Linked DNA regions of Homo sapiens. The protein of the gene in region 1 purifies or fractionates together with the protein of each later gene. This does not show direct contact. Each region holds a gene or a part of one and is shown in the gene's direction. Other genes may lie near its edges.

Region 1 (3,823 bases):
TAATTCCCCTTCTAAAATCTGATTTGGATAAGTTGATGTACACAGTTCACAGCCCAGTTCCCGATTTCTTTTAGGCACTTTTGTGATACTGACGTGGTGTTTTCTACCCCACTGCATGTTTCTCTGATAGGTTGTACCTGTGGAGTATAAGGACAATTCTAATACGCAACATGCATGCTATGAGAACCTCTATAATTATAAAGCTGTGATGCGTTATGTTATCACTAGCCCTTCTACCACTACCCACCAACTTCCTGCCTTATTTGTGTTTTATAAATGTCTGTCTGAATTGACACAAGAAGCTACTGGGTATGGATGAGGGAACAGGATGTCTCAATTAAGAGTGCTCTGACTACCTCAGAAAAACAGCACTCCTGCTTTCAGTAAGTGCATGAGTAACCAACATTATGTAGTGACAGATTTATAGAGATCTTGTGACTGAGTCATGGACAGATAGTAGAAGAGAAAAGATATGTCTTCCTTTTTTCAGAATGGAGCAGTTTCATGAGGCAAAGCCTGAGTGTTGTAGGAGTTGTTTTTAATTTCAATTTAGTTCCATTTGCCTTGTAATTGAAATTATTCCCAAATTTTGGCATTCTCTTATCCTTTGTTTTCAGTTATATGTGTATGAATTTTTACTTTATTCTGTATTCTAGGTATTTAGTGGGATATTAGAGGACGCTGTGTCTAGGGCTGCTAGCCAAAGTCCATTTAAACTGGAAGACTTTGGGCACACTTTATCTTTCTTCTTACTTAACCTATTGTTGTGCCCGTGTTTCCCAAGTTATGTATTCATTTTTCTCATGAAAAATCAATCTTTTCTGATTCTTCTTTTATCTGTGCCACCCCCCCACCCCCCCCACCACCACATGTTTGTTTGAGATTAGATCCTTACCAATCTCCCTGTTCCCTTATGTGCCTTGGTAGGGACTCTGTATCCCTAATGCAGGGTCTGGCATGTGGGTGCCATGCTGTGAGTATATACAATTTCAAAAAATGAATCTTACCTACTATGGTATCTTTATTATCCAAACCTCCTTGATGACCAGATCTGTTCATCTAATTATCTACTAAAAATGCCTTGCCTGTATTCCTCATAAGTTTCTTAAGATCACCATGGCCTCAGGTGGATTCATTCTTCTTCCTTATTTTATATTTCTTGCCCTAATAAATGGTGCCCCATCCAGCATCCAGTCAGTCACCAAAACTATAGAAATCTAGGAATCTTTGTTTTTTGCTTCCTTTCTCTTTCTCCTATCCCACAACCAGTTGATATTACCATCTTTATTGATACTTTTATTCATCAATTGATATTGATATCATCTTAAAAGATGTTGAACTATCTCCTCTGTATCCCAAAACTGTTACCTTTCTTTAGGCCCTTAACTGTTGCTTAGATGATTGTTCCATTTCTGTTTCTCTGTGGCTTTCCCTGCCCCTACCCATATACAGTCTAGCACGCTTTCATATAGCATATCAAACAGGAGTTGAGAGCATGAACAAAGGAAGACCAGTTCAGAGAGTACTCTCATTGAAGTCAACAATTTTATCATTTTTATATGTGTAATATACTTAACACCACATATAACTTCTGCTTTAGGCTAAAGGAAATTATTTTTAGAGAGAGAAATTCCAAAGGACAACTCGAAGTTATGGTTCACAAACTTCAAAATGAAATTAAAAAACTGACTGTTGAACTAATGAAAGCAAAAGATCAACAAGAGGATCACCTTAAACACTTAAGAACCCTCGAAAAAACATTAGAAAAAATGGAGAGACAAAAAAGGCAGCAGCAGGCAGCACAGGTATTTCTCTATTTTAATATATGAGTAGCACAGATTAACACAAATTCATAGCTTCTATCGTGAAACAAATTATACTACCTAGAAAACCTAAAAGATGTAAGGCCATATGCAAAAATTAAATTGCTGTTAATTTAACGGTCACATAGCCTGTTGAATTATGTCTAAATTAAGACTACTAGCTCTTAACACAAAGCAATTAAAAAGAAAAGTTGATGGAAATGTTGCAGGTGGTTAGGCTTTTATTCTGAGAGAGCTGGCTTTTTAAAAGGCTTTCAGGTGATTGAAGGAATTTCATTTTCATGCTTTCTGAATGGAAATTATCATTAAAATCTGTGATGCAAATAAGCAATAGTTAATGCTAGTGTATTTGTTCCTTCCAAGGCTGCACTTTGTGTGACTGTAACATCATTAATTTATTAAAGTTTGAAAATCAACTTAGTCACCGGACACTGTCATTTAAAAGGTACTTATGGAAACTGACATTAAAATAGCAGGGGAGACTATTATCTAAATAATGTAATTGTGGGTATTTTACTCAGATAAGACTGATCCAAGAGGTGGAACTCAAAGCTTCAGCTGCCGATAGAGAAATATACTTACTTAGAACTTCCCTTCATCGAGAAAGAGAACAAGCGCAACAACTTCATCAACTTCTTGCATTGAAAGAACAGGAACACAGGTAAATGAAAAATGTATCAGGAATGTATTGGCATTTAAAAAAAGAAAAAGAAAGCTACTGGTTCCCCACTACCAGTATTTTTTTTTTTTTTTTTTGAGACGGAGTCTTGCTCTGTCGTCCAGGCTGGAGTGCAATGGCGCAATCTCGGCTCACTGCAAGCTCTGCCTCCCGAGTTCACGCCATTCTCCTGCCTCAGCCTCCCGAGTAGCTGGGACTACAGGCGCCCGCCACCATGCTGGCTAATTTTTTTTTTTTTTGTATTTTTAGTAGAGATGGGGTTTCACCATGTTAACCAGGATGGTCTCGATCTCCTGACCTCATGATCTGCCCCACTCGGCCTCCCAAAGTGCTGAGATTACAGGCATGAGCCACCGCGCCTGGCCCCCACCACCAGTATTTAAAGATAGTGATTGAGCATTGGTGAAGTCTGACAGAATTAGTTAGTGGAAAATGCCGTGTTCATGTATGTATACATTAGAATCAGCCCTATAGCAAGAACTAGTAGCTAAAAAATGAATAGTTGCCTTTGTTATCAGCATTTGAGGTATAGGTTTATAACAATATAGCTTATTGTTCATTTCTTCAAACCCAGCCAAAAGTTGGTCTTTATATAGAGAGAAAATTTTTAATTGACCCCCAAGTTAATTAATTAGTAAATTAATCAGTATTCTTTATTCCTCTGAAGGAGGGGTCAGTGAACTTTTTCTGTAAAGGGTCACATAGAAAATATTTCAGGCTCTGCAGGCCATACCTAACTTTGCCTTTGTAGCACAAAAGTAGCCATAGATAATACATAAATGAACGGCATGGCTGTGTTCCAATAAAAGTGTATTTACAAAGAAAAAGGCAGTAGGTCACATTTGGCTGATGGGCTGTAGTTTCTCAACTCTTGCTCTACAGAATCTGTAATAATTTCAACATTTTCAGTTTATCTATTTCAGTTATCTATTTACTATCCTACCAGTGAAATTGTATGATTATCATATGTTAATTGTATTTATTCCGAAACCTGTTTTGTTTTGTGTCTACATAAATTTTGGTGCTCTGGGGAAAATTGTTATCTTGTATAGATGAGACAATTATAAAAGATTGGGGGAAAATAATCACAAAAATCTAGAATTTTGTACTTTGTTTCCTTTACAGGAATTTTGTACTTAGTTTCCTTTACTTAGTTTCATTCCAGTTTAAAGAAACCAAAAACTGGAAATAATGGGTTTCACATTATGAGTTTGAGTAATGCAAGAAAAGTAGTGGAGAACCGTAAAGAATGAACTAACTGGCCCAATATCAAAAGATTAGTAAATAATTTTACACTTTAACTGACTTTTTCTATTAACAA
Region 2 (3,823 bases), on another chromosome or scaffold:
TTTAATAACCCAGTAGGTATCTGTTACCTTGAAATTCATATAAACTTTTCTGAATGTGTTTATCTTAACTTTGCATTACATCATGGGTAACAAATTGTGTAAATTTACTAACCACATTATGAAATGAATCCTACATTTTATTTGGCTCTTTAAGCCACTTCCTTTACATGTGGAGCAGGTGAACTCCATTGTCATATGGTATAATTTTGTCAGCAGGTTCATTTTTCATTCTACTCATATTCTTGATAATTTCATAATCTTTATATTTTAGAAAGGTTATAGAGGCTTTAATCTTTTAAAACGTATCCTATTATTTGTCTCTTCAGTTCAGTGTTTCTCAACCTTAGCTATAATCTTAGAATAATCAGAGGGAATGAATACTAATTCCCTGGACTCTACCCCAGATCAATTAAATCAGAATCTTAGGAATGAGGACCCCTAGCATTAGTATTTTTTGAGCTCCCCAGTATACAGCAAGGATTGAGAACCACTGCTTTAGTTGTTTTTTTCTGTTTTTACATTATCTATAAAAGTTTGGTGATTTCAACACTTTTATTAGTATTCCCTATATGGATGGCTTTTTATAGAATTTGGGATATAATTTCTTTTTCCATTGTTCTTTCTGATGATAGCATTTTATTTTTAGGCAGTAGAATATTATAATTTGAATCACCTCCTTCTGACTGAGATGTAATGACAGAGTAATCTTTGAGCTGGAATGAACTTTGGAAATAATCAGCTCAGTTAGGTAAAGTGAGGTTCAGAGGGAGGCTGAATGACCAAGAATGAAATAGGTTTTGTACAAGCTGTCACTTACATCTCCAGATATCTTTACAGTTTTATTTTTTCATATTTTTTGTCTAGGGGCCAGGCTAATCATCTGTATCATTCCAATTTGAGTATATGTACTGCTACAGCCAGCACTCTTTACAGTTTTCTTTAAAGCCCTTTCAGATACACTGTACCATTTAAACTGTACAACCTTCTGAGGTAAGCAGAGCCACACTGATGCTTATTTATTTATTTTTTTTAGATAACAGGCATAAAGATTTTACTGTGTTTTACTGCTTTCTAGCTTATTTTATTGGTTGCATTTAAGATTTTCTCTGTCTTTGGTGTTATGTAGTTTCATTATGATGTGTCACAGTATAGATTTCTTTTTCTTTTTTTGAGATGGAGTCTAGCTGTGTCGCCCAGGCTGGAGTGCAGTGGCACAATCTCGGCTCACTGCAACCTCCGCCTCCTGGGTTCAAGCAATTCTCCTGCCTCAGCCTCCCGAGTAGCTGGGACTACAGACGCCCGCCACCATGCCCTGCTAATTTTTTGTATTTTTGGTAGAGATGGGGTTTCACTGTGTCAGCTAGGATGGTCTCTATCTGACCTCGTGATCCGCCCGCCTCAGCCTCCCAAGTGTTGGGATTAGAGGCGTGAGCTACCACACCCAGCCTATATTTCTTTTTATTTTGTTTGGGACTTCATTAGACTCCTTGAATTTGTGGATTGGCTTCTCATTAGTTCTGCAGATTTCTCAGTTGCTATCTTGTTAGGTTTGTCCTCGATTGCATTTTCCTTTCTTCTCCTTTTGGGTTTTTGATTACATGATCTTAGGGCTTCTCCATTATCTGCTCTGTATTTTCCATCTTTTTATCTCTCCATGCTTTATTCTCGATAATTTATTCTGACTTATTTTCCAGTCTGTGAATGACATATCTTCCACTCCATTAATTTTCTCTTCAGTTGAGTCTGATTTGTTAAAACCATCCACTGAATTTTTAGTTTTGGTTATTGTTGAAGTTCATTTTGGTTTCTTTTCAAATCTGCTCGGTCATTTCTTAAAAAAATATTGTTCTGTTCTCTGCAGGTATTTTCAGTGTCATCTTTAATTCTTTAAACATAGTAAGTAGTTATTTTTTAGTTAGTGTCTTTGCGTTTCCTTTATCTGAGGTCTTAGAGGTGCCTTTGTGTGGTCTGTTGTCTCTGCTGGTTCTTGTTCATGACGACGTGTTCCCTTGTATCCTTAGTTTACCTTTGTGTGCCGCCTGCTGTCCTTGAAAAACTGTGAGACTAGACAGGCACGGTGGCTCATGCTTGTAATACCAGCACTTTGGGAGGCTGAGGCGGGCAGATCACCTGAGGTCCGGAGTTCAAGACCAGCTTGGCCAACATGGTGAAACCCCGTCTCTACTAAAAATATAAAAATTAGCCAGGTGTGTTGGCACATGCTTGTAATCCCAGTTTCTCAGGAGGCTGAGGCAGGAGAATCACTTGAACCCAGGAGGCGGAGCTTGCAGTGAGCCAAGATCGCGCCACTGTACTCCAGCCTGGGCAACAGAGTGAGACTGTCTCAAAAAAAAAAAAAAAAAAAAAATTAGCTGGGCGTCGTGATGGGCGCCTGTAATCCCAGCTACTCGGGGGGCTGAGGCAGGAGAATCACCTGAACCTGGGAGGCAGAGGTTGCAGTGAGCCGAGATTGCACCACTGCAATCCAGCCTGGGCAACAGAGACTCCACCTCAAAAAAAAAAAAAAAAAAAAAAAAAAAAGACAAAAAGAAGAACTATGAGACTAATCTGAGCTCTCAAATAAAGGTATCTTCTTCAGAAAGGTTTTTTTTTGTTTGTTTTTTGTTTTTTACATTTCCTTCTGGTAGATGTCTAGAGTTATTACCAGTCTGGGGCCACTTTATTTTTTATTTTTATTTTTTGAGATGGTCTTACTGTCACCCAGGCTGGAGTGCAGTGGTGTGATCTTGGCTTACTGCAACCTCTGCCTTCCAGGTTCCAGCGATTCTTGTGCCTCAGCCTCCGGAGTGGCTGGGACTATAGGTGTGCACCACCACGCCTGGCTAATTTTTGTATTTTTAGTAGAGACGAGGTTTTGCCATGTTGGCCAGGCTTGTCTTGAACCCCTGGCCTCAAGTGATCTGCCCGCCTCCGCCTCCCAAAGTGCTGGAATTACAGACGTGAGCCACTGCCAGGCCTGGAATCACTTTAAAGTAAATGCATTACTTAAGATGTTTGGGCCACCCAGCTGATGTGAATTTTGGTTGTGAATACATTTGAGGGCCAATATACTTCTGTTTTGTCTTTGCTTTGAAGACATAAGCCCTTTAGGGATCTAGCTAAATGTGAGGTATATCACCTATTAGACTGTCCACTCTGGAGGGGTAGGGTGTTTGATTTTTGCTCCTTGAGTCCTGCAAGGCTGTTTGTTGTGATTGGTCAATATCCTAAGGGCAAAAATGGCTTTTTGTTCCTTTACCTCACTGGGTTCCCATTTTCCCTTTTATTTTGGCCAGATAATTCCTTCCTATTTTTGTGTTGCTTTTAAGAAAATTGTGAAAATATTTTGTCCAGAATTTTTGGCTGCGTTCAGTAGAAGAATTGTTGTGGGGCACCATAACTGGAAACTGAATTCTCTTATTTTACTTTCAAAATCTGACAAATAAGAATGGCCCTACTAATTTTTGGGGGAGAAATAATGTTGACAGACAGCACTTCTTTATCAAGAGATGTGCCTATTTAGTCCTGAACTTTATTTCAAATCTACTTTTCTTTGAATGGTAAAGGGAGACCTACAGTTTTTCTCCAAAATCTTGATAACTGAAGCAGAGTTTAAAACAAACAAAACCCTTTGCTATGCAGTCAATGAAAGGTGTTTGAAAGTTCAGATAATCTGGATAGAGTCCCCTTTGCCCACCTGCTATCTCCTTGATGTCAGCTATACTTTTGATTTGCTAATGTGTGTAGCATCCAGGTTTCAATTCTGGGCCATTAGAAATAAAATTGTCCTTGGATCTTTGGCGTTTCTTGCCTCGGTGGCCAA

The links.
Region 2: the proteins of LRRCC1 (region 1) and STRN purify together in Homo sapiens (affinity purification with mass spectrometry; 2 studies listed by BioGRID and IntAct, with this or other methods). This does not show direct contact.

Annotation. Positions count from the first base shown.
Region 1 is NC_000008.11:85,127,575-85,131,397, forward strand, and holds part of LRRCC1 (leucine-rich repeat and coiled-coil domain-containing protein 1), read left to right. Parts: intron 1-1,600; coding exon 1,601-1,805; intron 1,806-2,344; coding exon 2,345-2,484; intron 2,485-3,823. UniProt on the Homo sapiens protein: Required for the organization of the mitotic spindle. Maintains the structural integrity of centrosomes during mitosis.
Region 2 is NC_000002.12:36,956,463-36,960,285, reverse strand, and holds part of STRN (striatin), read left to right. Parts: intron 1-3,823. UniProt on the Homo sapiens protein: Calmodulin-binding scaffolding protein which is the center of the striatin-interacting phosphatase and kinase (STRIPAK) complexes.